Regions from separate parts of the Homo sapiens genome. Here region 1 is linked to region 2. Evidence: fine-mapped expression QTL. A gene starts in region 2. The other region holds a variant in brackets. All regions are shown on one strand. Distances are between the middles of the regions. Region 1 overlaps PLEKHB1 (pleckstrin homology domain containing B1). Region 2 holds the start of COA4 (cytochrome c oxidase assembly factor 4 homolog).

The links. PIP is the estimated chance that this variant, and not a neighbour inherited with it, causes the effect.
Region 1: its variant is fine-mapped to the expression of COA4 in whole blood (TOPMed, PIP above 0.99).

What each region holds. Positions count from the first base shown.
Region 1 is chr11:73,653,380-73,664,001 of GRCh38, forward strand. It overlaps PLEKHB1 (pleckstrin homology domain containing B1), which reads left to right. Exons shown (of 8, transcript NM_021200.3): 6 at 2,424-2,528; 7 at 7,374-7,473; 8 at 8,087-9,440. The coding sequence ends at 8,223. Among named protein-coding and RNA genes, the nearest start is that of PLEKHB1, 12 kb to the left of the region's middle. RefSeq lists enhancers at 6,902-7,746, 7,747-8,589 and a silencer at 7,652-7,823. The variant G/A (reference allele first, on the strand shown) is at 5,157.
Region 2 is chr11:73,872,242-73,882,863 of GRCh38, forward strand. It overlaps COA4 (cytochrome c oxidase assembly factor 4 homolog), which reads right to left and starts at 4,605. Exons shown (of 2, transcript NM_016565.3): 1 at 4,516-4,605; 2 at 426-1,153. The coding sequence starts at 1,137. The coding sequence ends at 874. It overlaps PAAF1 (proteasomal ATPase associated factor 1), which reads left to right and starts at 4,758. Exons shown (of 12, transcript NM_025155.3): 1 at 4,758-4,827; 2 at 6,538-6,578. The coding sequence starts at 4,781. RefSeq lists enhancers at 4,856-4,905, 4,926-4,995.

The DNA of each region.
Region 1 (10,622 bases), 220 kb before region 2:
TGAAGCTCATTCATCCGCACAACAAATATTTACTGAGCTGCTACTATGGGCCAGGTGGTGTGCCAAGTGCCAGGGATCAGAGGTGAACCAAGGAGATATGGGCTCTGCCCACCTGGACTCAGCCTAATGAGAAGCCAGACATGGAACAACTAATTAATTATTCCATTTCAATAGTAATAACAGCTCTGACAGAGATTTGCAGTGTCTGGCCCTTTCATCCAGGTGGTAGTTCAGGCAAGGCTTAAACCGAGGACTGAAGGATAAACAGAAATTGACTGGGTGAAAGGTGTGGGGATCGGGTAAAGGGCACGGCATTCCAGGCAGAGGGATCAGCATGTGCCAAGGCTCTGAGAGAGGTTAAGACATTTGGCAAGTTGAGGAACAGAAGGACAGCTGGGGTGGCTGGTGCTTAGGGAGTGAGTGGGTAAGGAGGGAAGGAGGGTTGGCACGACCAGGTCTTGTGGGCTGTATGAAGGATGTTGGTTTCTGCTAAGAGCACCAGGGAGCCATGACAAGTTTTTGAACAGAGGGATGGCATGATCAGATCAGGTTCAATTTATATTTTTAAAAAGATAATTGTTGTAACGTTGGGGCATGTAAAAAAAAGGGGGTAGTCTGTCAGTTTATGAAATTTTGTTGTAGAAAAAAGGAAAAAAAAAAAGATAGTCTGGCTGGTAGGTAGGGAATGGATTATAGAGGGTAACTGCAGACACCCAGAGGCCACTTAGGAGGCTGGGACAGTGTCCGGGCAACAGACTGGAGATCTGGATTAAGGCCTTGTTGGCCGAGACAGGCTGATGAGTACAGGACATATTTAGGAGATGGAGTCAACAGAGCTTGTGACTGATGGAAGTGGCGGTTTGAAGAGCCGCCCAAAGCCCAGCTTGGCCTCCACCCCCATCTGCCTGACTCCAGAATCTGTGCTTGCTCTTTCTCTGTATGGCACAATGGAGCCCCCTCTCACCTATAGAGAAAGTCCGTTGGGAAGTAGCAGGGGAGACCTGGATGCATTTAGAAACCTCCTCAGGCATCCACGTCCTGAGTGCCAGGCATCATGCTAAGCCCCTGGCAGCAGTGACATCATTTCATCTTCCAACAACCCTGGCAGGGCAGCTGGGTGGGGGTTGGTATTATTAGTCCCATTTTACAGATAAGGAAGCCGAGGTTCAGAGAGGGGAGGTGACTTGTCCAAAGCTTATACTCTTAAGTCAGTGGAAAAGCCTACCATGGAACCTAGGTCAGTGAGATTTTGAGAGGAGGGCGTTATCTGCAGAAGTAGCTGCATGAGCAGAGACAGAGAAGTGATGTGTGCACATGTGTGTGTGCACAAGTGCTTATGCACATATGCATGCGTCTAAGGGCCCAGAGTCTGCCTGGCTGGAGAGCAATTCATGAGGCGAATGAAACAGGAGAGATGACCTCTGAGGTCATCGGGGCCAGCTCATGATGGGCCTCAAAGTCCAGTTGGAAGAAATGGACTTTCCCTGAGGCCTGTAGGGAGCAATAAAGGGCATTCAGCAGCGAGGGCTGTGGTCAGATTTTGGGGAGCAGACTCAGGCTTCCAAGTGGCGGGTGAATTGGAGAAAGCTGGGAGTAAGGAGGCTACAGCAGTAGTCTGCAGGGTGGAGGGACCCAGGTCAGGCTACCCTGGCTCTGAGCTCCAAAGCCTCTTTATGTGGGGCAAGTCAGTTCCACCAAAGAGAGGCGGAGGGAAGGAGGCAAGGGTGACTGTCTGCACTCTGTGACTCTATGAAGCGGCCTCGTCCTTCTCTGCCTGTCCATCTCCTGTGGCTCTGCTGACCCTTCTCTCTGCCCTGGCCTCTATTCTACCTCCCACTACTCCACATATACACGTCCTTCTGTGCCCGGGCTTACTAGAGTCGGGGTGTATTTGTGCCTGTGTCTACCTATCTTTGTGTGTTCACCTCTGTTTATGGGCTTCTCTCTGTAGCCTGTGTGGGAATGACCTGCCCTTTGTCCTCCGACATGCTGGAGTTCATACCTCACTCCAGGTGGAGGCTCCAGGAGCCCCTAACACCAGCTTTACTGGGAACACAGGGCCTGGGGGCACAGCTAGGGACGAGGCTGGGGTGAAGCGGACCAGGTGGGCTAGAGGACAGAAGGGAGTCGCCCTGTCCTCCCTGGAGACTGGGAACCCCAGCAGGATGAAATAGGGGAGGGTGGGCTAATTCTGGAAAGAGACTACTTGTCCTTCTTTTCTGCGTAACTTTGGCAGTCATCAGCATTCTCTGAGCCTCCCCCGTTACCATGAGCTGAGGAGAAAGAGGATGCTCCCTGCCACAGCCCAGCTGGCGGAGGGCTCTGGTAGGGTCTGGAAAGAGCTCTTGAGTCTCTTTAGGTGTAGAGGGCCTCTGACACCCCCTCCCTCCCTCCTCCTTCTTGGGTTTCTGTGGCTTGAGCAGGCCCCAGCTGGAGCCACCGTCCCTCCCAGGAGCCGCCGGGTTTGCTCCAAGGTCAGGTGTGTGACCCGCTCGTGGAGCCCCTGTAAGGTTGAGAGGCGGATCTGGGTAAGTGCTGGCTCGGCCCTCCCTGCCTCCATACTGGCCACCAGGATGAGCCTCCAAAACCAGGCCCAGTCCATCCCTTCCCTGTGACAAACATTCCATGGCTCCCTATCACCCACAGGACACAAACCAGCTGCTCTGCTGTACCCTCTGTCCCCAGCCACACCAGACCTTTTCCCTCTGCCAGCCTTCGCACATGCTGTTCCCTCTGCTGACAAGACCTCAGTTTCCTCATTCACCTGACAAACTGATGCTCATCCTGTAAGGCCCACCTCAAAGGCTGCCTGCCACCTACTCAGTGGGGACTTCCTAGACCACTAGGCATCGTCATTCCCTCCCTCAGCCTAGCGGCACCAAGGCTTAGTGCTTTCTTCATTCTGCCTGGTTTCAGAGCTGGTTTATTCCTGTCTGTGTAGTCTTCCATGAGGCCTAGAACTTCCTCCAAGGCAAGAATGAGGCCTGATTGCGCTGCCTCTATGGAACTTGGCACAAGGCTAGGTAAATGGCACATGCTCAATTAGTGCTCGATGATGGGGAGTCTATGCTGACCTTTCTTACACAGTGGGGCTCAGGGAATGTTCACTGAGTGAGCAAAGGAAGGAAGGAGGGAGTGAAAAACTTCCTTTATAGCAATACTACTACATAGTCTAATTTAGTCTAGGTCTGTCTCCCCTCACCCTCAATGTTTCTTGAAGGCAGGATCTGGCCTGAATCTTTTCTCTGTCCCCAGAACTCAGCACAGGGCCTGGCATGGGGTGGGTGGCAGGAGGGGGCTTGAGTGAGAGTACCTGTGATCTTATAGTCAACTCTGAGCTCATCTTACACAGTGGTGCTCAGTGTGGCTATGTATCAGGATTGTTTAGGAACTTACAAGCACTAATAACAAGTATTCATGTTCCACCTCTGGATGTTTTAATCTGGCATGGGGCCTAGGCCTAGGAAACCTGTAGTTTAAACCTGTCTCCTGGCCAGGCCTGGTGGCTGACACCTATAATCCCAGAACTTTGGGAGGCTGAGGCGGGCAGGTTGCAAGGTCAGGAGTTCAAGACCTGCCTAGCCAACATGGTGAAACCCCATCTCTACTAAAAGTACAAAAATTAGCAAGACATGGTGTAATCTCAGATACTCAGGAGGCTGAGGCAGGAGAATGGCTTGAACTCAGGAGGCGGACGTGGTTGCAGTGAACCAAGATCACCCCACTGCACTCCAGCCTGGGCAACAGAGTAAGACTCCATCTCAAAAAAAAAAATTGTCTCCTGATGACTCTGATGTGCAGAATCACTAAGCCTAGAAGTGCCTGGGCCACCAAATTGTATAGATGTGGCACTGTTAGATCCTCAGTGGCTTGGAGAGGTTACCTAACTTGATCAGGGTCACTCAACTCATCAATGGCAGGTCTGGGACTCCCAGCCCATCGTTCTGAGGTATTTTCCATGCCCAAACTAGGATGCAAGTTTGTTTAAAGTGGGGATGTCAAAAACTAGGATTTAACAGACTGTAAACCTAATAACACAACAGCTCAGCTAAGGGGAGTCATTTGCATGTGACCCCCTGATTGGTCAACACTGGTTGTACCCACAAAGTAGCTGGGCCTCTGGAGAGGGAGAGGCAGGTTCAAACCCTCAGGTTCTGCCCATGGGTCTCTGGGCTGTCCCTATTTGTTGCCAGGTGACTTATAGGAGTTTACTTCTGGGCCTCCCAGACGTGGAGAGTAAAAACAGGTGCCCTCGAGGGATATGGGGTGCTCCACCCTCTCCAGGGCCTCCCAAGGCCACTGGCTCACTGTGTAGCAGCAGGGCAAGGTGGAGGCTGTGGACCTCAACTTCCCCACCAATAAAATTGGACCTGAGAGCTTAGATCCCTCCAACCCCTTTTGGGCCTGGAGCCTGGATCTTGGCACTGCCTACCAGAAATCCCTATTGGATCACTGATGGGGAGGGAGCACCGTAGAGTTCACTGACTTACGACATTGCTTGTCTGAGCCTCTTGCATTGTCTTGGGACTATATGTTTTCCCTGACTTGAAACTGAACTCAGAGTTGGGCAACCTTAGTTCCAGTCTGGCCCTGTATTTGATTCACTGGAATGAATTCAATAAACATTTATTAGGTACCTGCCATGTTCCAGTCAGATCTGATTAGACCCAGTCTCTGCCCTCAAAGGCATCTCCAAGTCTGATGGGAGAGACACAGGGAAACAACGTGAAGACAGCATGATCGGTGCTGTGATGCAGGGACATCCAAGGGCTGTGAGTGTCCAGATGGGACCCCAACAGAACCTGAGGTTCAGGGAGAGTGATGCTTGAGTTGAGTCTGAAAGACAGGTTGAATGAGGTGAGAAGCATATCCCTAGCAAAGGAAAATGGCATGGAGATTTGAAATCACAAGGTGTGCTTGGAGACCTTCCCCTTACCACCAAACTTCTTGAAAGAGATGTCATGACATGGGGATTGCATCCTTCACCTCTCAGCCTTTCTTCAACCCTCCATAGCTTGGCTTTTCCTACTCAGCAACTCCTCTGAAAAGTTTTTTCAAGGTCACTCACAACTTCCAAGTTGCTAAAACCAGTGGCCTATTATCTTGGAATTGGCCAAAAGAATGGGCAGAAGAACACATTTAGAAGATAAAATCAC[G/A]AGACCTGGTGGCTGATGTGTGGAAAGCAGATGTGTGAAGACAAGGGCAACAACCTGCTTTCTTTCCTTCTTTCTTTTTCTTTCTTTCTTTCTTTTTTTGAGACAGGATCTCCCTCTGTTGCCCAGGCTGGAGTGCAGTGGTGCAAACACTGCTCACTGCAGCCTCGATCTCCTGGGCTCAAGTGATCCTTCTGCCTCAGTTTCCCAAATAGCTGGGCCCACGGGCATGCATCACCACACTCAGCTAATTTTTTAATTTTTTGTAGAGACAGGTTCTTGCCATGTTGCCCAGACTGGTCTTGAACTCCTGCATTCAAGCAATCCTCCCGCCTCAGCCTCCCAAAGTGCTGGGATTACAGGCATAAGCCGCTGTGCCTAGCCTTTCTTGATTTGAGTGCATGGTGATGGCATGTACTGAGAGAAGCATTTATGGGGCTGGGTACTTTGGGAGGCCAAGGCGGGCAGATCACCTGAGGTCAGGAGTTCAAGACCAGCCTGGCGAACATGGTGAAACCCTGTCTCTACTAAAAATACAGAAAAATTAGCCAGGCGTGGTGGCAGGAACCTGTAATCTCAGTTACCTGGGAGGCTGAGGCAGGAGAATCGCTTGAACCCGGGAGGCGGAGGTTGCAGTGAGCTGATACCATGCCATTGCACTCCAGCCTGGACAACAAGAATGAAACTCTGTCTCAAAAAAAAAAAAAAGATTTATGGGAAAAGCAACAGTTTTAGCAGATGGAGAAATGTTGCAATCATCTTGAGATGAGTGGAGTTTGAGACACCTGGACTTCTAAGGGGAGCTGGACTGTTCAGGTGTGAATCCCAGTTAGAGAGAGATACAGGGTGGAATGGGGCTAAGAGGAAAGATCCAGAAGAGAAGGGGATCCTGACCCCTCTCCAGGTCTGCTCCCCCATGGGTAAAATGAGGGGTTTGGAGTTTCCATTTAATTCAGCACATAGTTCTTGGTTCCTGGTATGCACTTGGCCCTGCTGGTGACACAAACAAATCAGAGTCCTTGTCTACAAGCAGCTCACATTTGGGCTGCAAGAAAGGCCAGGAGAAAGGATAGCAACAAGAGGCACAAGCAAGATCCACAGAATTCAGGGAAAAAAAAAATTCTTCCTGAGACCAGGAGAGCTTCCTGGAGTGGAGTGGGTGACCGTTGAGCTAGGCTTTGAAGGGTTGGCAGAAATCTAATGGGAGAGAGGGGAGGGCAGGGAATGCATTCCAGAGAGAACACTGACCATTCTCTGAGCCTCAGTCCCCAACCCTATGGTCATGTGGAGCTAATACCTGCTTTAAGGATTAGAGGTGGTGTAACACACGTGATCACTTCCTTCAGGACCTGGTACATAGTAGGTGCTCAATAATCGTTACAGCCTAGTGCAGCCTAACAATTTTGGGTCAATGATGGACCACATATACAAAGGTGGTTCCATAAGATTATAATGGAGCTGAAAATTTCCTATCACCTAGTGATGTTGTAGCCATGATAATGTCGTAGGGCAATGCATTACATTTTCTACATTTATATATGATTAGTTAGATAACAAATACCATTGTGTTACAATTGCCTACAGTATTCAGGGCAGTAGCCTGCTGAACAGGTTTGTTGGCTTGGAGCAATAGGATATACCATATACTCTAGGTGTGTGCCACCTAGGTTTGTTTGTAAGTACACTCTATGATATTCACATAACTAAAATTGCCTAAGGACGCATTTCTCAGACTGTATCCCTGTTGTTTAAAAGACGCATAACTGTATTTTAGTTACTTCTCATCCCTATCCTTCCTTTCCCTTCCTTCCTCCCCAACCCCTGTTTATTTCCTGGGCCTGGGGCTTGGCCATGTTCCCCTCCTTGTGACTAGTAGAGCTGGGTCTTTCAAGTGGCATTATTGTAGAGCTGCTAGCAAATATTAGACTACCTATAAGGAGAAATTGGGAGCCATAGAGAATTTTTTGAGCTAGGTGGGAGGCCAGAGTTGGAGAATGGGTGTCACTGGGAGCTGGATGTAGGGCAGAAGTTTTAGAGGACCGTGGACCTTGTGGGGAGGGCAGGGCCTTTCTCCAAGAGCTTGCTAGTGGCTGGAGGCCCATTTCTAAACTTGGGGAGGTGGCTCCATGGATCCCAGAGAGGCCTGTGCCAGGCGTGGGGGTAGGGGACCAAATCCGGGCCAGGGAGTTCCTGGGCACCTGACATGGTTGGATTCCCCAGGTGCGCGTCTACAGCCCGTACCAAGACTACTACGAGGTGGTGCCCCCCAATGCACACGAGGCCACGTATGTCCGCAGCTACTACGGACCGCCCTACGCAGGTAAGTCTCCAGCGTGCCCCGGGGCTTGCCTCGATCCAGCACCGATTCAGCGCCAGGCCCAGCCCACGGTCCGTAAGTCCGGACCAGGCTTCATCCTTTTAGCGTGCACGGATTTTCCCAGGCAGAACTCTCCGCAAGCCCCTCTCCATCCTGAGACTGGGAGAGCTCTGGAACCAGCGTTCGTCTCGAGCTGACCTCACCCTTCTGGGATGGCTCCTCAGCCCTGCGGTCGGCAATACCCATTCCTGAGCCGGTAGCGGCCCCTGGTGGCTACTGCGGGAATGCTGCCTCCTCCCCGCTCTGGGGCCTGGCGGTTGGGAATGCCCATCGTTAGGCGCCTGGTGGTTGTGCTTAGCGATCTCAGGGTTTCCTCGCTGCTCCGCCCTAGCCTGCCGTAGCGGACCCGTAGGTTCCGGGACATCCGTAGCCGATCCAAGGCCTGGGAGCCGTAGGGTGGAGCTCTTCCCGCGTCTAGATCTGTTCTTTGACTGGGGAGCAGGAGAGTGGGTTCGGCGCCTTACACTGGGTTGGGCTGGAGTGATGCAGGAAGGGTACGAAGATCACTCTACTCCCTCCTAAGTCGCTGATCCTCATGGGCTGTCTCCCTCTGCAGGCCCTGGCGTGACGCACGTGATAGTGCGGGAGGATCCCTGCTACAGCGCCGGCGCCCCTCTGGCCATGGGCATGCTTGCGGGAGCCGCCACTGGGGCGGCGCTGGGCTCGCTCATGTGGTCGCCCTGCTGGTTCTGAGCCCTGGGACTCGGAGCACTGACCCCTGCGCTTGGATTGCTAGACTCCTCTTCCTCCTGGACCCCATCCTCTACCATCCAAGCCCTGTCCCACTTTGGCCCTATCCTCTCCATTAGCTCCTTCCGGGTTTGGACCATTCCCCCCACTCCCTACCCTTAATCCCCACATGGGAAGAAGCTATCATCACAGGTACAAACATCGCTTGAAGTCTTCACATCTACCACTAGACACCCCCAAAATCTGTTATAGACATTTATGGATACATTTCCTCTAAACACAACAGGGCACAGCAAATACGACTTCATTTGGCTTCGAGTTCCCCAGGCGCTGTAGACACAACATGAATCGGGCTCTCTGCTCTCTCCTTAGGGAGCTCGAGTCCTGGTGGGGAGAACAGGAGTAAACAAGGACTTGACAAAGCTGAAGAGTTATCAGTCCTTTGACAAGGACAGGTGGGGCAGGGAGCAAGACAGGTAGGCTGGAAGAACAGTTATTGGCAAGTATGCAGAGCCGTGAACGTCATGGCATGTCCAAGGAATTAAATGGGAGTTCATTTGGGCTGGGGTGGAGGCTGGGATCAGACCGTGGTGGGCCTTCAAGCTAAGGAGCTTCCTAGGTGAAAGGGGAGATGTGAGCCTTCTCTGGAGGGAAGTTTCATGATTGCATCTATAATGAATATATTGCCTGTTTTGTGAATACTGACACATGTCCATACCTAAAACACTCCTGAGTCAAGTCCCATCCTTCCCACAAACAGCTTCCTGGCTGGTACCCATGATAACAATTGAGCTGAACCTGGGGACCCCTGGTTGGGGAACAGGTGAGTTCTATTTGAGACTTCCAGCCCTAGAAAGCTGCCTCCGTCCAGAAATGCCTCTCACACCAGGAGCTCGGCCCTCTCTTTGTAGCTGTGACTGTCACCCTCTCAGGCTTTGTCTCATCCTTCATTCTGAATAAGATGGCAGTGTTCTCCTCTGGGGCCTGATCCACCTCTACACCAGCCCAGGAAGCCCCATCTGTGCCTGCCCTCAGGTGGTCCACCAGTCTCCCCCTTTGGTTCCCTTCCAGTCTCTTCCCCCTTTCTATCCCAATCACCAATAGAAATGCTAACATCCCTGCCTGGTAGCCAGACTAGCCCACTAAAGCTCCCCTGTAAATGGGGGCTCCATTAGTTCTGCTGCCGAGACTAATAAAGATTTGGTTGGCTCTAGCAGTAACTGTGGCTTGCTTTGTTCCCCCAGAAGGCCCTGTTTCCCTCTCCATGATCCAGCAGCTACTAGTGCCTTCACTGGTCTAGTGAAAAAGAGTGTGGATTCTGAGATCAGTTGGAACTGGTGACAGCATATTAGCTGAGTCATTTGGGGCAAGTCACTTAACCTTTCTGGATTTTGTTTTCCCTACACTTAAGGTAGCTGGTTGAAGTTGACCATTCCTGAGGGCTCAAGAGGAGGGACTGCCTTGGAGTCTCTGTTGTCTGAGCTGATGGATGATCCAAGCCAGGTCCTGCCTGCTTTCTGAGAATCCTGTTCATGTTGGAGTCTTTTCCAGTAGGTTCCCATCCTTCTAGAGTTGAATCAATGAATTGTTCTCATAGAAAACCAGGTGGTCAGGAAAGGAAACACCATCATCCTGCATCAGGCTTCTTGGGGCTGTCAGATAGAAACTCCCTGTTCAAACTGATTTAAGCCAAAGGGAAAAGGTTAAGCCACATAACTGAGAAGTCCAAGAGCTGTGTGATCCAGGGGCTCAAAGAGTGTCACTTAGACTTTGCTTTGTTTCCATCTTTACACCTGCAGGGCTGGCTCATTTGGAAGCTGCAGTGATGTTCAGCAGCTCCAGGCTAATGCCCTCCTGAGTTCAAGTCCAACCAAGAGAATTTCTCTTCCTCTAACAGTATGACTGAAAGTCCTGGGCCTGGTAGACATCAGTCTAAATTGGGTCCTGTGGCCATCCCTGCATCAACCCCAGTGGTCTGGAAACGGATGGTCTAAAATAACAGGGCTTACAGCAGGGGTGGGATGGTGTCCCAGAGGAAATTCAGGGCACTGTTCCCAGAAGTAGGATGAATAGATGAAAGCTGGTTGGCAAAAATATCAGGTATTCACCTCAGCCACAGTTCCAGAGACACCAACTTAGAGGTGAGACATGTATAAAAACAGCAATGATTGAATGAAGTTACAGAGGAACGTGGTGCAGTTGGAGCTCTGAAGAGGAGGCATGCAACTCTGCCAAGGGAACTAGGGAAAGCTTTGGGACAGGAAGTGGAAATTTATTTTGAACCTTGAAAAATGAGTAGGAGTTTGCCAATCTGAAAAAGTTGGGAGAGCTTTCCACACAGAGAACAGATGGAAGAAATGGTATGAGCAAAGGCATTAGAGGCTTGAGAGCACCCTGAAGTT
Region 2 (10,622 bases):
ACTGTTTTGAATGGGAAAACACAACCTACTTAAAGGGGGAGTTATTATTCAGCTCCAGCAAATTGTTAAGAGGGAATAAAAATCAATGTTGACATCTTCTCCCCTTTTCAAAAGCTGAAAATCTGTATTTTAGTGTTAAATATACTCTAAAAATGTTAGCCCAACTTTGTGTTTGTTGGGTTGGGAGCAAGTTAAAGCCAGACTTGGTATCTGTTAATTCAACAGAATCTGGCATTTAATAGGTACTCAATGTTTGAATAATTAGCTGGGTGTGGTGATGCACACACCTGTGGTTCCAGCTACTTGAGAGGCTGAGGTGGGAGGATGGCCTGAGCCCACTGAGGATGCAGTGAGCCCTGACTCCACCACCACACTCCAGCCTGGGCAACAGAGACCCTGTCTCAAAAAAACAAAAGAAAAACATATTTGAATAAAAAGTTTCCCCATTTATTTTTCCTTCCACTAAACTGATTGAAACATCCAGAACAAGTGATGAAAGAGAAAGGCACTAATTAGGTAATCAATTTACCATTAGATTGTAAATTTAATTTAAAATAAAATGTCCCTAAAATCATCTCAGTACTTGGCACACTGACTTAAGATGTGGGGTGGGGGAGCATCCCTTAACACATTCTTTGTTTTCCTGGTAAATACTGGTGGAACAAGACAGCTGAGAATGTATGACATCTGACCATGAACATATGACAGCTGTTTGTGCCAGTCATGTCCAAACCCATGGCTCTCAACTCCAGATCCAAAAACTCTCCCCATGTTTTAGACCTCCCACACCAGCATTTAGGATTTCTTCCTCTATAATCTTGCTGGGTGCTGGTCTTGGCAGGGCCATCTACTGGGGATAGGTGGTTTGGGGTCTCAGTGGTGGGCACCGGCTTGTTCTTGCCTCCTCTGCAGCTCCTCTTGCCGCCTCGCCTGCTGTTCACTCATGCAATCCTTGAACGCCTGCACCTGTGGCTGGCATTGCCGCCAGTCCTGGTGCTGGGCCATGCACTCCTGCACTGCAAAGTGGGAGGCAGCACAGCCAGAGCGGGAGATCAGCTGGTCCAGCGGGTCCTCCTCCTCATCGTCTTTCTTCACCCGTTGGGTCCAGGTATGGCCTTGAGGGACTGAGGTTGACATCCTGGGGATGGGGAGTCTATAGAACATTAACAGGTTAGAGTAGGGATATAATATGTAAGGTTCCTAAATTATAAATAGCACTGACCAGACTGCACCATTTAGCCTGTTTAATGTGTCTGTCTCCCGTGGGAGACTCTAAGCTTGAAGACAGATGCTTGTTTTTTTTTTTTTTTTTTTGAGGGTGTCTTGCTTTGTTGCCCAGGCTCACTGTAGCCTCCATCTTTAGGGATCAAGCAATCCTTCCCCCTCAGTCCCTCCCTGGCCAGAGTAGCTGGGACTACAGGTGTGCATCACCACTCAGCTAATTTTTTTGATTCTTTAATAGAGACAAGGTTTTTCCATGTTGCTCAGCATGGTCTCAAACTCCTGGGCTCAAGTGATCCTCCTGCCTTAGCCACCCAAAATGCTGGGATTACAGGTGTGAGCCAACTGTGCCCGGCTGATGTTCGTCTTGATTTACCTTTGTGCCCCCAGCACTAGGCCTGGCTGAGAGCAGGCCTGAAAAGTGGTTTGAACTGAATGAGATAAACTGTGAGAATGCTTGACATAACATTCAATAAGCTCAGTGGATTTTGCTATTGGAATATGAATTAGGTGAAATGTCATCTTTTTAGATAAGCTATCTCTGATCTACCTAAAAAGAACTAAACTTTCAGCTAGGTACGATGGCTCACACCTGTAATCCTAGCATTATGGGAGGCTGAGGCAGGAAGATCCCTTGAGCCCAGGAATTTGAGACCAGCAGGGGTAATAGCAAGACCTCATCTCTACAAAAAAATTTAAAAATGGCTGGATACGGTGGCTCATGCCTATAATCCCAGCACTTTGGGAGACTGAGGCAGTCGGATCACCTGAGGTCGGGAGATCAAGATCAGCCTGACCAACATGGAGAAACCCGTCTCTACTAAAAATACAAAATTAGCAAGGTGTGGTGGCATATGCCTGTAATGCCAGCTACTCAGGAGGCTGAAGCAGGAGAGCCGAGGTTGAACTCGGGAGGCGGAGGTTGCGGAGAGCCGAGATCACACCATTGCACTCCAGCCTGGGCAATAAGAGCAAAACTCCATCTCAAAAAAAAAGAAAAAAGAAAAAAAATGTAAAAATTAGCTGGGCATAGTGGCACACACTTGTAGTCCCAGGTACTCAAGAGGCTGAAGAGGGAGAATCCTTTGAGCCCAGGAGTTCAAAGGCTGCAGTGAGCTATGATGGTGCCACTGTACTCCAGCTTAGGTGACATAGTGAGACCCTGTTTCAAATAAATAACCTTTCTTCTTTTATCCTACTAGCCTTATTCTATGCTGAAGAACAAAGTTTAAAAAGTGAAAGAGGCTGGGTGCAGTGGCTCACACATGTAATCCCAGCAATTTGGGAGCCCGAGGCAGATGGATCATAAGGTCAGAAGTTCAAGACCAGCCTGGCCGGGATGATGAAACCCCGTCTCTACTAAAAATACAAAAATTAGGCGGGCGTGATGGCAGGCACCTGTAATCCCAGCTACTCGGGAGGCTCAGGCAGGAGAATCGCTTTAACCCAAGGGGCGGAGGTTGTAGTGAGCCAAAGATCGTGCCACTGCACTCCAGCCTGGGTGACAGAGTGAGACTCCATCTCCAAAACAAACAAACAAACAAAGTGAAAGAGTGCCCAAATATGGGTAGGTTTTGACACATGGGAAGGATGGAAAGAGTTCACTGTGGCTGTAGCATACAGTATGCAGAAACCTGGCCTCTGGGTCTATAAGGTGAGATGGCTTTGTAAACTATACAAAAATGTGAGGTGTATTTATTTGCCCAAACTGTCTTGCCCGTCTGCATCAGAACACTCAGCAGAAAGCAGCATACAGAAGGAACTTAAGGTTTGAAGAGAAATGACTTCAGCCTTTGCAAAAATTTCACCATGATGGGCTGTAAAGCAACTAGGACTCCTTATTGCCTTAACTGTGTCTCTCATTCACTCAACAAATGATTAAGTACCTATCATGTACCAGGCACTATGCTAGTGCTGAGGATTCAAGACTGTCTAAGTCAGTTAAGTTCCTGGCTTCATGGAGTTTACAACCTAGACAAGGAAACAGGGCAGTTTACTACACAGTGTACAGATAGCAAAGACTGGGACCACAGTGGAGGGATGCCTAATCCAGACAAGGGCAGGAATAGGCAGGGAAGGCTTCCTAGAGGAAGTGATTTCCAAGCTGAAACTTGACAGATGGAACAGAAGTTAGCCAGAGATGGGAAAACTATTTTTGGTCAATGGAAGAGCAGGTGGTTGAGATAGAATCTGACACATGAGAGCAAAAAAAAAAAAAAGTTCAGTGATGGGAGAATACAGTGTGAGAATAAGACAATATTAAACTGGCGATATAAGTAAGTGATCATCACAAGGCTTTGTAGGACATAGTAGGGAGTTTAAGACTTTTTATTCTGAGGGCAATGGGGAATCACAAGAGGGAGTTAGGCACTTTACACAACTCATTTGCCTTGGAGGCGGTATAACTTAAGCAAGAGGGAGAAAATGGGCTTTGAAACAGACTTGGACCTAGCTTTGTCACTGCCTCATTTGGTGCCCTTGGACACATCATTTAATAACCTCTCTGGAAGCACAGAGATGAAGCCGGGTGCCATGGCTCACGCCTGTAATCCCAACACTGGGAGGCTGAGGCGGGAGGATGGTTTGCGCCCAGCCTGGGCAACACTGTGAGCCGTGATCACGCCACTGCATTCCAGCCTGGGTTACAGCGGGAGACCCTGTCTCAAAAAAAAAAAAAAAGAAAAAAAAAAAGGTAAGGTTTGTAAGGAGGCTGGTATGTCTAAAGAGTTCAATAAATGATAGTTTTCTCTTCCTAAATACACTGTTAACTCTTTAAATAGGGCCAGGAGCAAATAATTTAGAGAAAGAACAGTGGAATAGAAAGTGCCTTGATCCTAAACCAAGAGATCCGTGTTCAAATCCCAGCACTACGCCTTACTATGTAATCTTTTTCATTTTAGTTTTCCCATTAATAATATTTAATTCGCACAATTAGAATGAAGATTAATATAACGAATGAAAAGCGCTTGGGCTACTATAGGACTCAGTAAATGCTGCTGTACTCTCCTCTCACCACCTTTTGGCTTCAGTCTCCTCTGGAGTAAAATGACGACGACCCCTGCTCAGAGATCAGGGTAGGCTAGATGGTTGGCAGCTGGATCGTGGAGGCTGGCCTAAACAAGGAAGTCATGGAAAGGATCTTAAAGCAGAAAAATGCTGGCAGCCACGAGGCCTGAGGCGCCTCAGGCGTATCGAGGACTTTGAACTTTGAGGACGCATGCGCGCGCGCGGCCGCTGATCGCAGCCCCGTTGTGCCCGCAACGCCTCCTGAAGAACGCGGTACGCGATGCTCACCGAACAGGTGGGAGAAGAGGGCCCGAACGCACGCTCCTACGCGGCGGCTTGGGTTTCGCAGGCGGTTGGGGATCCTCTGTACATCCTTTCAGGAACCAGCCCCTCGTGGGGAGCGTGCACACGGAAGGGGCGGGGAATGTGAAAAAGTCACGTTTTCATTGGTGGCCTCTTGGTGTTGAGCCCACCTCTGTCCTCGCCGCACGCTTCTCGGGGACTCACTTCCGGGAAGGGGCGGAAGAGGTGGGCTGGTGGAGGCGGGGTCGAGATGGCGGCGCCTTTGAGGATTCAGAGCGACTGGGCGCAAGCCCTCAGGTGAATCCAGGCCCAGAACAGAGTCAGAGGAGGCGGGTAGTGGATGTTGCTTTGCGTCAAGGAGAGCCATGCCTGGTCCAGGATATCAATAGGGGTTACTTCGTCAATTGTCGAGGGATATGGAGGGAACAGGGTCCGGAAAAAGAAGTATCAAACCCGTATGGTCATTCTCTGAAAAGCTATCCCTAGGCCAAGGGAGCACATGAGCTGTGTGATCCCCGCGTCAGAACTAGTATCAGTGAGTTGGAGAAAGACAGGGATACTGGGAGGCAGGAAGGCTTTTGGCCAAGCAGTCATTTAGCAAATATTGATTAGTCGTCAGTTACTTCCAGAAGTCTCTGTACTCACCACCACTTTGTGTATGTGATGGAACCTTTGTATTCTCCTAGGCCCCTAATGCTATATTAGGCATACTGGACGATACTATTAAGGAAACTAATACTGTGTCCAGGCCCCATACTGGATGCTTGGTGGAGCTCAGATGTATACTCTAAATATAAGTGATGGTTCCTGCTCTTCAAGAAGCTGACATCCAGGCCAGGCGCAGTGGCTCATGCCTGTAATCCCAGCACTTTGGAAAACTGAGATTGGTGGATCAGTTGAGGTCAGAAGTTCGAGACCAGCCTGACCAACATGGTGAAACTCCGTCTCTACTAAAAATACAGAAATTAGTCGGGCTTGGTGGTGGGCGCCTATAATCCCAGCTACTCGGGAGGCTGAGGCAGGAGAATCGGTTGAACCCAGGAGGTGGAGGTTGCAGTGAGCCGAGATTGCACCACTGCACTCCAGCCTGGGTGACAGAGCGATACTCATCTCAAAAAAGAAGAAAAGCTGACGTCTTAATTAGGAATACACAGCAAACTATTCATTCATCTAACATTTATTGATCTTATACTATTCCAGTTATTTCTCTAGGCTTCAGGATGAATATAGCAGTGCTATATTTGGCAACTGCTACTACTAATAAGGGTTTTTCAAATTGAAACAATGGTGAAGATGAATGAAACATAGCCTTCTGCATTTAAGAAATTTACACCTTACTAAATTTATACCTTACTTAATTTAGGTGGGCTAAAATACAGACTAGTTGCTAGTACACAGAATGTGATAAGTAATAAAGAACAATAACATGAAGTGCCACTAGCTACCTATGAGAAAATACAGCACCAGAATCAGAAGGCTTAATTTGCCCAAGATCATGCATCTCGTCAAATGATAGAGGGTTGCTGTCAACCTAGATCTTTCTGTCTTAAATGCATAGACCCTTTCCATTATACCCTAAAAGTGCTAGGGTGAAGAGATCAGGATTTGGATGATTGGGCAGGTGCTAAAATAATAAAAGGAATCTTGTTTGGTTATTGTGAGGGTTAATGATTGTGTATGGAAAGTGCTTAGCACAGGGCTTGGTTTACAATAATCCTGATAAATAATTAAATAACCTTGATTTTTCAAAGTGAGCTCACTGTTGATGGATGAGCATTAATTTAACCAACAGATATCTATTCATTAAATAGTTAATCCACAAATATTTCTTGAACAAATAAAGTTTGTCTGTCTTAGAATGATCTATACTCGATGAGAGGTTGGACTATCTCATGTCTAAGTACTATGACCAAGCTGGAGGTTACATGACCTTCTTTCTTCCCTTGTAACTATGGGATCCTATTCAACTTTGGGTAAGCCTAATTAGGCTTTTGTCTTTCTTCGTAGGAAGGATGAAGGGGAGGCCTGGCTGAGCTGTCATCCCCCAGGTAATACCCATGAATTATATATGCTGTGACTTTAAAGGAGAAGGATTAATACCCTTAAAAGAAAGCTTCCTACTTTCTCCTGGCCCAGCCTCCTTACATAATAGTCTGCAAACATGCTTGACCAGTCTGTACTGTATGGCCAACACCCCAACTCCTCCATTCCAAGGGAAGGCCTTCAGATTGATTTTCCATTTGAAAGCCACAGACTTATTCATGGAGACATTGTTGATGCATCTTAATTAGTCACTTACCCTGTGCTATTGTATTCTAAGCACTTCTGCAGCTTCAACTGGGACTTTCTTGATGATAATTTCTAGATCTACAGCCCCAGCCCTGACTTCTCCATGTTCAAGCAGAGATTGATCAGTTGTTTGCTAGATATTTCTGCTTAAAGGTCTCACTGTCACCTTAAGTTACTGGACTTACTGAAGTCCAAAACCAAGCTAAGTACATTTGTTGTCAAGTGAGTTCTCTTTCCTGATTTTTCTCATTTCTTAAGTTACCATCATTTTTCTAGGCATCAGAGTGAAAAACCTAGTTACTTGACCCTGCCATATCCAGGAAGCTCCCAAGTCTTATCAATTTTTCTTTTGAACAACAGTCTTATATCATTCACAGGATTCTTTTCAAATTGTAACCGAGGTGGTACCATTCTAAAACAAATCAACCTTCCTTCTAAATTCTGTAAGAAAGTTTTGTTTTGCTGATTATCTTTCATTTCAAATGCTGCTGATATATTGTATTTCTATGAGAAATAAAGTTTTGGCCAGGCACAGTGGCTCACACCTGTAATCCTAGCACTTTGGGAAGCTGAGGCAGGAGGATCACTTGAGCTCAGGAGTTCGAGACCAGCCTGGGCAACAAAGTGAGACCCCCTCCCCATCTCTATAAAAAACAAAAAAAATTAGTCAGGCATAGTGGCATGCGCATGTAGTCCCAGCTACTTGGGAGGCTGCAATAGGAGGATCTCTTGAGCCCGGGAGGTTGAGGCTGCAGTGAGTTATGATCGAACCATTGCACTTTTGCCTGGGTGACAGAGTGAGACCCCATCATTAAAAAAAAAAAGACTATTGTTTATATCAGTGGAATAAAGGATGGACTTTATAGTGCTGTGACTTGCCAATCATCTTAAAAATAAGGCCAGACGTGGGGGCTCATACCTGTCATCCACCATTCTGGGAGGCCAAGGCGGAGGATTGCTTGAGACCAGCCTGGGAGACATAGGGAGACCTCGTGTCTACAGCAAATAAAACTAGCTGGGCATGGTGTTGGGTGTCTGTAGTCCCAGCTACTCAAGAGGCAGAGGTGGGAGGATTGCTCAAGCCCAGCAAGTCAAGGCTGCAGTGAGCTGTGATTATGCTACTGGACCTCCTACCCTGGACAAGGGTAGCCGTGATCATGCTGCGTGGTCTCCTACCCTGGACCAGAAAGTGAGACCCTGGCTCTAAAAAAAGAAACACACACACAAATACACAAATATATATATATACACACACACATATACATATGTATACTTAACATAAAAATTCAAGGAAAATACTGTATTTTATTTTACCTATTTTATTGTGCTTAATTATGTTCAAAAATCCTATTCTAACTGCTTGAGCTAGGATTGTGCCACTGTACTTCAGCCTGAGAGACAGAGCAAAACCCTGTCTCAGTTAAAAAAAAAAAAAAAAGCCAGGTGCGGTGGCTCTACTAAAAAAAAATACAAAAAATTAGCCGGATGTGGTGGTGGGCCCCTGTAGTCCCAGCTACTCGGGAGCCTGAGGCAGGAGAATGGAGTGAACCCGGGAGGCGGGGCTTGCAGTGAGACCAGATAGTGCCACCGCATTCCAGCTTGGATGACTGAGCAAGACTCTGTCTCGAAAAAAAAAAAAAAAAAAAAAAAAAAAAAAGCCAGGCACAGCAGCTCACGCCTGTGATCCTAGCACTTTAGGAGGCTGTGGCGGGCGGATCACCTGAGGTCAAGAGTTTGAGACCAGCCTGGCTAACATGGTGAAGCCCTGTTTCTACTAAAAATACAAAAAATTACCTGGGCGTGGTGGTGCATGCCTGTAATCCCAGCTACTCGGAAGGCTGAGGCAGGAGAATCGCTTAAACCCAGCAGGTGGAGGTTGCAGTGAGTGGAGATCGTGCCATTGCACTCCAGCCTGGGCAACAAGAGCGAAACTCCATCTCTAAATAAATAAATAAATAAAATAAAAATACACAAAAGACCTACATTTTATTTTAACTAAAATATATAAACATACATTAAAATTCACCTTCTCTTTATTAGTCCACTTATTATTACAAGGACCTTGGCTATCTTGTAATAAACTGTAACCAAAAGGCACAGTTTCTTTAAAGCAAGGCAAATCTTTACTTAGGCTAAAAAAGCAATCTAAGAGCAAAACATCAACTGGGGTTTATATTTTTTTAGATCTTTTCCCTAATATTTTGCATTTTTCTTGCCGATACATACTATTAAAGCAGTATTTTTTAAACAGAATCTAGCTCTGTCACCTAGGCTGGAATGCAGTGGCATGATCTCAGCTCACTGCAACCTCCAGTCCTAGGTTCAAGGGATTCTTGTGCCTCAGCCTCCTGAATAGCTGGGACTACAGCTGGGACTACTACCATGCCCAGCTAATTTTTGTATTTTTAGTAGAGACAGGGTTTCACCATGTTGGCCAGGCTGGTCTTGAACTCCTGAGCTCAAGTGATCCGCCCGCCTTGGCCTCCCAAAGTGCTGGGGTTACAGGTGTGAGCCACTGCCCCCGGCCTAAAACAGTTTTAAAAAAACATTATCAAGTCTTTACAAAGCAACAAACTTAATGTTGTTGTTGTTGTTGTTGTTTTAAATTACCAAGCTACCTTCAACAACCAAGGAGTTTTTTTGTTTGTTTGTTTGTTTGTTTTTGAGATGGAGTCTCACTCTGTTGCCCAGGCTGGAGTGCAGTGGTGCAATCTTGGCTCACTGCAACCTCTGCCTCCTGGGTTCAAGCAATTCTCCAGCCTCAGCCTCCCAAGTAGCTAGGACTACAGGCGCGTGCTACCATGCACGGCTAATTTTTTGTATTTTTTTTTGAGATGGAGCTTTGCTCTTGTTGTCCAGGCTGAAGTGCAATGGTGCCATCTTGGCTCACTGCAACCTCCGCCTCCCAGATTCAAGCAATTCTCCTGCCTCAGCCTCCCGAGTAGCTGGGATTACAAGCATGTGCCACCATGCCTGGCTAATTTTGTATTTTTTTTTTTTAATAGAGACAGAGTTTCTCCATGTTGGTCAGGCTGGTCTCGAACTCCCAACCTCAGGTGACCCGCCTGCCTCAGCCTCCCAAAGTGCTGGGATTACAGGCGTGAGCCACTGTGCCCCGCAATTTTTTGTATTTTTAGTAGAGATGGGGTTTCACTGTGTTAGTCAGGATGGTCTCCATCTCCTGACCTCGTGATCCGCTCCCTGGCCTCCCAAAGTGCTGGGATTACAGGCGTGAGGCACCGTGCCTGCACTTTTTTTTTTTTTTTTTTGAAGGTAACTTGTAGATTCAGTTTTCTTTATGAATTGGAGTTAATGATGTCAACTCTTAAGGAGGAGGGTGGTTTTTGTTTCTGTGTGTGTTTATTTTTATTTTTATTATTTATTTATTTATTTATTTATTTTTGAGATGGAGTTTCGCTCTTGTCGCCCAGGCTGGAGTGCAGTGGTGCGATCTCCGCTCACTGCAACCTCCACCTCCTGGATTCAAGCGATTCTCCTGCCTCAGCCTCCCAAGTAGCTGGGATTTCAGACATGCGCCACCACGCCTGGCTAATTTTTTTGAGACGGAGTCTCGCTCTGTTGCCCAGGCTGGAGTGCAGTGGCATGTTCTCGGCTCACTGCAAGCTCCGCCTTCCAGGTTCATGCCATTCTTCTGCCTCAGCCTCCGAAGTAGCTGGGATTACAGGTGTCCGCCACCACGCCCAGCTAATTTTTTTGTATTTTTAGTAGAGACGGGGTTTCACCGTGTTAAGCAGGATGGTCTCGAACTCCTGACCTTGAGATCCGCCCACCTCGGCCTCCCA